2 linked regions of the Homo sapiens genome follow. The protein of the gene in region 1 purifies or fractionates together with the protein of each later gene. This does not show direct contact. Each region holds a gene or a part of one and is shown in the gene's direction. Other genes may lie near its edges.

Region 1 (4,321 bases):
TTCCCCCATTTTCTCTACTTGGCTGCTCCCTGAGAGGACTGCATAGGATAGAAATGCCTTTTTCTTTTCTTTTCGTTTTTTTTTTTTTTTTTTTTGAGATGGAGTCTCACTCTGTCGCCCAGGCTTAAGTGCAATGGCACAATCTCGGCTCACTGCAACCTCTCTCTCCTGGGTTCAAGTGATTCTCCTGCCTCAGCCTCCCAAATAGCTGAGATTACAGGCATGCACCACCACACCTGGCTAATTTTTGTGTTTTTAGTAGAGACAGGGTTTCACCGTTTTGGCCAGGTTGGTCTTGAACTCCTGACCTCGGGAGATCCGCCCACCTTGGCCTCTCAAAGTGCTGGGATTACAGGCATGAGCCACTGAGCCGGGCCACTTTTTCCTTATCAGTCAGTTTTTACAAGTCATTAGGGAGGTAGACTTTACCTCTCTGTGAAGGAAAGTATGGTATGTTGATCTACAGAGAGAGATGGAAAAATTCCAGGGCTCGTAGCTACTAAGCAGAATTTCCAAGATAGGCAAATTGTTTTTTCTGTCAAATAATAAGCTAATATTACTTCTACAAATATGAGACCTTGGAGAGAAGTTTCCAAGGACCAAGTACCAACATACCAACAGATTATTATAGTTTCTCTCACTCTTACACACACACACACACATATACACATATGTAATCCAGCATGAATACCAAAATTCATTCAGGGTAGCCACCTTTTGTCTTAAGCGAGAGATAATTTTGATGTTTGAATGGAATGCTCCCAGGATATTCTCTTGTCATGGTTATTTTATATAAAATTCAAAAACCAATTACATTATTTCCTCTGTAATCTTTTACTTTATCAACTAATGTCTGGCAAGTGTGATGTTTTGGGGAAGTTATAGAAGATTCCGGCCAGGCGCTGTGGCTCACGCCTGTAATCCAGCACTTTGGGAAGCTGAGGCGGACAGATCACGAGGTCAAGAGATCAAGACCATCCTGGACAACATGGTGAAACCTTGTCTCTACTAAAAATGTGAAAATTAGCTGGGCGTGGTGGCACACACCTATAGTCCCAGCTACTCGGGAGGCTGAGGCAGGAGAATCGCTTGAACCTAGGAGGCGGAGGTTGCACTGAGCCGAGATCACGCCACTGCACTCCAGCCTGGGCGACAGAGCGAGACTCCATCTCAAAAAAAAAAAAAAAAGAAAGATCCCAGTTTATCCCAGTTTATCCCTTATTCTTCCTCAATTCTCAAGATTTGTTTTTAAGTTAACATAACTTAGGTTAACACACTCTTTGTAAAATACACTGTTCAATCTACAGACTCAGTGGTTAGCTTCCTGTTAACTAATTTCTGTTGACAGGTACTTGGATATTTTATTTAGAAAGTGGTTGCCAATAAATTAGTTATAAGTCGCCAGTTTCACTGCCTTGTGAACACATAATTATTGTGGTCTCAGTATTCCCTATGGTGGCTTCTCCTGCTCCTGGTATTGCCCTGAAATGGGCCAAAAGCCGTGGCTCCCCAATACTCAGGTTATAGAACATTGTCCAGGTACCACCTAGGAGAGCCCAGCCTCACTGAAAGTATTCAAATTTAGGAATGGGTTTGAGAAGTAGGTAGCTGGTATGTGCTTAGCACAAGAATCTCTCTTCCTTGGGTTAGTCTGTTTCAAAACTGAAAACACTGTCATTCCTTAAGAAAATAGGAAAAAGTATTCCAAACCTCTGTCACTAGAAAATTTGCCATATTACCAAATCTCAAAAACCTCTCAGGAAATGAGAAAGTCCCAGTTTCTGGTAAACTATTTGGGCCCTTTTCTCAAGTTCTCCAACCAGTGCTATTTCCTTGAGGTGAGGCAAAGTTACTCAAGATCATCGCTGCCACTCAAGGCCTTGATAGGGCAAGTGAAAGGCATGGACCATTATTATATTGATCACAGCATAAGCTGTGAAAACCCACATCTTCTCCAAACATCTGCTTGGAGCATTATCATCGCATAGTTTGCTCTGGTGTTCAGGGAAATCGCTGTTTCATAGGAAATCACATGGCAGTGGGATGGGAGTGTTTCCTGACCTGCCGATGGTACTGGCACCTGAGCAAGCATTCCTAGTCCTTTTTGGTCTGGGCCTCTTGTTCTATCACAACCACAAGCTGTTTAAAATAAAACGTCAAGTCACAGGCAGGTCATTTTATCCTGCGTGAATCAATTGAAGAATTGAAGTCCTGGTCAGCTGTGATTGTTGGCTTTGCAAGGAAAAAGAAGGAACACTCCAAAATGCTAAATGCTTTGAAGAATAGTGACATGCAAGGAAGAAAATTCCATGCAATTTGGAGAAGAAACATTTTTCTAGGAATCTAGTAGCTGAGATATTTTATAGTTTAAAAACAGACTTCCAATATCTTGAGAATACAGTTAGCTCTACGAAATAAAGAGGAGTCAATAATATATGCAACTCTGTAGTCATTCATTATTTTATCCAGATTGACAGAAGCAGAGGAAACCAAGAAAAATGGAAGTGGTAAAAAAAAAAAAATGCAGTAATTGCCAATATTTACTGAGCATTTACCCTGTGCTAGGCCTTGTTATAGGCGCTTAGATTGATTTTCTTTTCATAACATCCCTAAGAGGTAGGTATTACATGCTCATTTTGCTTATGAGGAAATCTGCTGAGAGAGATTAAGTAATTTTCTCATGGTCACAGCCTCAGTCTTTTAGACCACGGTGTCAAAAGAAGTTCTTACTGTGAGTCAGGGTGGTGCAGTGGAGAAAGCGTTTGGGGAAAATCCTGACCCAAAAGTGTGCGTTGGGATGATGTGGAGATCATTCAATTTTCTCTTGTAGCTACAGCTTTGAGATGCACCCATTGGTATCCACACTGGCCTGCTGTCCTCAAATATTTCTCTATGTCTTGTTTACTTGAGTAGTGCAGAAAAGCTGACGTCCTGGGTCTGCTCTCGCATGCATAGGTGAGGTTTTCTCTGTAGCTAGTCATCTTGCTAAACCATATTTTTGGTCACAAAGAATCAGGATGAGAGAAAGTAGATAAAACCATGGAAACTCGAGGTGCCACCGGAAGAGCAAACCAAAGTATATTGATCTGCTGAAGCTATAATCCAAGTACTAAGTATACCTTCAGAAGTTGTATGCATTGTTCTTGGGGCAAAAAGGAAATCAAACATCTGCCCTTCCTCCCACAACCTCTTTACTTCCCTCTCTTCCTAACACTGTATCTCACATCTACAGCTGCAGGCACACAGATATGACATACAGCTTGATATCTTTATGTGCAAAGGCAAAAGATGGCTATGGATATAGGAGGTGGCATTTAAAAGAACAATATCCATGTTTGATACTGCTTTCATTATCAATAATGAAAAGGTAGCCTTTCAGCAGAACAAAGTAAGGTACAGGTCGTTTGGAAGCCATTTCAGTCATTCACACAGTGTGATCCACCATTACGAAGCAGAATTTGAAATCAAAAGACAATAGTACCCATATACATCAAACTAGGAGTTCAACTGGGGTCAGTCCTTGGACTGCACATACAGAGTTGGGCTGCCTGACTCTCAAAACATTGCCCTTGCTAATTTGCGTTGCTCACTTCCTATTGAATCAGGGATGATTTTTCTTTGCTGTAGTGAATCAGCCCTGCTACACTGCAAGAATCAAGCCGATTCACAATTCACATCAATTCCAGGAGTGACGGCCAGATGGCAGCATCTGGCTAGTCAGTTGGTGAGTGAGTCCACCTCCAGTCTTGATTAAACTCTGCTGCTGGGAAGTAGCAATTCTGAGCATAAATGTCTTTGATATCCTGAATATTTTGGGTGTGGGATGAGAGAGGCAGTAGATAGTGGAAAGAGCACAGGGTGTAGACTAAGATAGGCCTGGATTCCTTTCTTTAATCTGTCAATGAAAGCAATGAATGTTCTGAAACTACATGGCAATGCTTTTTTTGTTGCCACTCTGGCTTTTTTTTTTAATGCTATAAAATATATGCCTATTTTTCACTGCCAAGAGGTGACAACACAATGATGCTGCAACCAGAGAAGACAGACAGCTACCAACAACTATTGACAAGACAGAAGGAACATCAAGAATAGATGCAAGACAAAGCAATGTATCTCCATGGCCTAGATTTTTTAGGTTATGCATAGAAACAGCAAGGAGAAGAAGACACAATCCAAGTTTTCTTTTGAGAATATTGTGCTGTTTAAATTTATTTTTTAAACATTTCTTAGCTTTTCTTATTAGTCAATTTCATAAGCCTGGGAAACATCTTTACTCTATCCATTTAATTGCATTTGTTCATTAGCTTACTCATTTCACTTA
Region 2 (3,500 bases), on another chromosome or scaffold:
AGCATGTAGGGGATGCTTACGAGGCTGGGGAAGGCTCCTGGGAGAAATGACATCTTAAGCTGACAGCTGTAGGTAGAATACAAGTTAGGGGAAAGGGAAGAGAGGAGGGTATTTCAGGCTGTGCCAAAGGCCAAAGCAACTAAGGCCAGCTAAGGAAGTGAAGAGTCAAGGATGGTGACTCAGAATACAAGTGGGATCAATTATAAGAGGTAAGACTAAGGAGGTGAAAAAGGCAGGACACTCAAGATTGACTCACCAGTGATCGTGCATTTTTGTAGGTATAACTAACTGGGTTCAAGGTTGGAAGAAAAATGGGTGGAAGACAAGTGCAGGGAAAGAGGTGATCAACAAAGAGGACTTTGTGGCACTGGAGAGGCTTACCCAGGGGATGGACATTCAGTGGGTGAGTATCTTAAATGTTCATGTCCTATGGCCATTATGACCAAATAAGCTAAGTTTACTAGAGATTAATGGTTTATGTAAGTGGTTTAATGACATAACAATTTCCATGATATTAATATCATAATGTATATTACAACGTATTTGAGGCTGGGCGTAGTGGCTCACGCCTATAATCCCAGCACTTTGGGAGGCTGAGGTGGGTGGATCACGAGGTCAGGAGTTCAAGACCAGCCTGGCCAGTATGGTGAAACCCCATCTTTATTAAAAAATACAAAAATTAGCCGGGCATGGTGGTGTGTGCCTGTAGTCCCAGCTACTCAGGAGGCTGAGGCAGGAGAATCACTTGAACCCAGGAGGCGGAAGTTGCAGTGAGCTGAGATCGCGCCACTGCACTCCAGCCTGAGCAACGATATGAGACTCCAAGACCCCGTCTCAAAAAAAAAAAAAAAATATGTGAGCCTGGGCTCAGTGGTTCACATCTGTAACCCAGCACTTTAGGAGGCCCAAATGGCCTGACTACTTAAGCCAAGAAGTTCGAGACCAGCCTGGATAACATGGGGAGACTCTGTTTCTCGAAAAAATAAAAAATTAGCCAGGGGTAGTGGCACATGCCTGTAGTCTAGTTACTCAGGACACTGAGGTGGGAGGATGACTTGAGCTGGGGAGGTCGAGGTTGCAGTGAGCCAAGATTGTACCACTGTACTCTAGCCTGGGCGACAGAGTGAGACCCTGTCTCAGAAAAACAAAACAAACCCACCCACATACACAAATTTGATTATTTTCCTTATCATACAAGTAATACAGTTTTTTGGTTTGGTTTTTGAGACAGGTCTCACTCTGTCACCCCAGGCTATGGCGTGATCTCATTGCAACCTCTGCCTTCTGGGTTCAAGTGATTCTCGTGCCTCAGCCTCCCAAGTATCTGGGATTACAGGCATATGCCACCACGCCTGGCTAATTTTTGTATTTTTAGTAGCGATGGAGTTTTGTCATGTTACCCAGGCTGGTCTTGAACTCTTGATCTCAAACATTCCACCTGCCTTGGCCTCTCAAAGTGCTGGGATTACATTTGTTTTGTGTCACTTCCTATATGTTTTTGTTTTATGACAAAAAGGTTTACAACTAAATCAATAATCATGTCAAACTTTTTTTTATTGTTTTGAGATGGAGTCTCGCACTGTTGCCCAGGCTGGAGTGCAGTGGCGCAATCTCGGCTCGCTGCAACCACAAGTAATACAATTCTAGTGAGAGTGTCACTAGGCATAGAATACACAGGCAGTGTGGTTTGAGGGATGTTCTACAATCCTTATATTTTGTTAAGAACACGAAGTAACACCCAACCTGGGCACATGGCATTACTATGACAGCTGTATGTCACCCTGTTCATTTCTTTGGAATGCATCATAATGTTAAATAAAACTATCAGTGTATTTTGTTTCAAACAATAGTAAGGTTGTATGATTAAAGCCTTGGTAATAGAACTTTTATTCCAAGATGGAAGCACTTTTTAAAATCATAGATCATGTTTATTAAAAAGTTTTTTTCAAGCAATAGAGAACAAATTACACTGCAGCCACTGTCTCAACCCTGCCTTGTTCTGCCTTCCTGGAACCACTGATAATAGTTTGGTAGCCTGATGTGTAAATTTGCTTTGGCAACATAAATGTAAACAGTGGTTAAATAAGTACATTATTTCTGACAGCACTGCAAGGGAAGCGTGTGTGTGTGTTGCATACATATCCGTCCACCCATCTGTACATACATGTGTTTTGCCTGGAAAGCTTATCAAGTCCCATTGATAAGTGGGGAGGAAATAGCAACATGAACGGTAAAATCCAATTTGTGAAAAAACAAAATGGAATGTTCGTAAATCACATCCATTGCGTAAACGCATGAAGAATGGACAGCGTGCTGTTGAGGATCATGTCTGGGGAGAGGAGCGTTGAAGTTGAGCTTATGCTGTGCAGTCTGTTCTGAATGGTTTTTTATGATGACAATATAGTCATGTGTTGCTTATGTAAAGATGAGTAAAAATAAAAGGAAAACATTTATCTTAACAGATGCATGTTCCTGGTCATTCGGGATTTATAGGCAATGAAGAAGCTGACAGATTAGCCAGAGAAGGAGCTAAACAATCGGAAGACTGAGCCATGTGACTTTAGTCCTTGGGAGAACTTGAGCCAGCGGCTGTCTTGCTGCCTGTACTTACTGGTGTGGAAAATAGCCTGCAGGTAGGACCATTGCAGTGATGGGCAGATGCGTCTTTCACACGGAATCAGGCACAGTGGCCTTCTGTGACATGTGTTTATAAAAAATGGTTAAGTATATAATAAATTGAACATCTTTGAGATTGGAGAATTATGTGAGATTTCCACATTATGTTTACTGGGTTCAATACTGTCCTTGCTTGTTTTATTGCAGGCAAGCAAGGCAAATGGCCTAAAATGCTGTGGCTTATATTTTGATAAGAAATCAAAAAACCATTGGTTAAAAGATGCAACTCAGAAGTCTGGAAGTATTCTGAAAGCATCCATTTACCGTCCAGTTGACAGGTTTGAGTCTCCTGCTTGTATAGGTGACTTGTGCCCATGGGTACATTAAAGGAACATGCTGCCCAGGGCCTGGGCGGACAGCTCAGTGGGCAGGATGTGTGCTGGGTCTCAGCCCCATGTGCCTGCTTGCTGGGCAGTTAGTATAGGGCAAAGCCTGCCTGCGGCGACCCTGGCTGCTAGGCCATTCTCTAGGAACAGCTGCGACTCATAAAGACCAAGAAGCATAAATAAACTTTCAAAAATTTATTTGGCTCTTTCGTTAAAAACTGTGCAAATTAAAAAAAAAAAAAAAAAAGTAAGACACCGGCTGGGCACAGTGGCTCACTTCTGTAATCCTAGCACTTTGGGAGGCCAAGGCGGGCAGATCACTTGAGGTCAGGAGTTTGAGACCAGCTTGGCCAACATGACGAAACCCTGTCTCTACTAAAATTACAAAAATTATCCAGGTGTGGTGGCACGGGCTTGTAGTCCCAGCTACTTGGGAGGCTGAGGCACAAGAATCACTTGAACCCAGGCGGCAGAGGTTGCAGTGAGCCAAGATTGCAC

The links.
Region 2: the proteins of RNASE4 (region 1) and RNASEH1 purify together in Homo sapiens (co-immunoprecipitation; one large-scale study listed by IntAct). This does not show direct contact.

Annotation. Positions count from the first base shown.
Region 1 is NC_000014.9:20,694,223-20,698,543, forward strand, and holds part of RNASE4 (ribonuclease 4 precursor), read left to right. Parts: intron 1-4,321.
Region 2 is NC_000002.12:3,544,834-3,548,333, reverse strand, and holds part of RNASEH1 (ribonuclease H1 isoform 1 precursor), read left to right. Parts: intron 1-278; coding exon 279-403; intron 404-2,442; coding exon of another isoform or gene 2,443-2,462; coding exon 2,463-2,549; 3' UTR 2,550-3,500. UniProt on the Homo sapiens protein: Endonuclease that specifically degrades the RNA of RNA-DNA hybrids.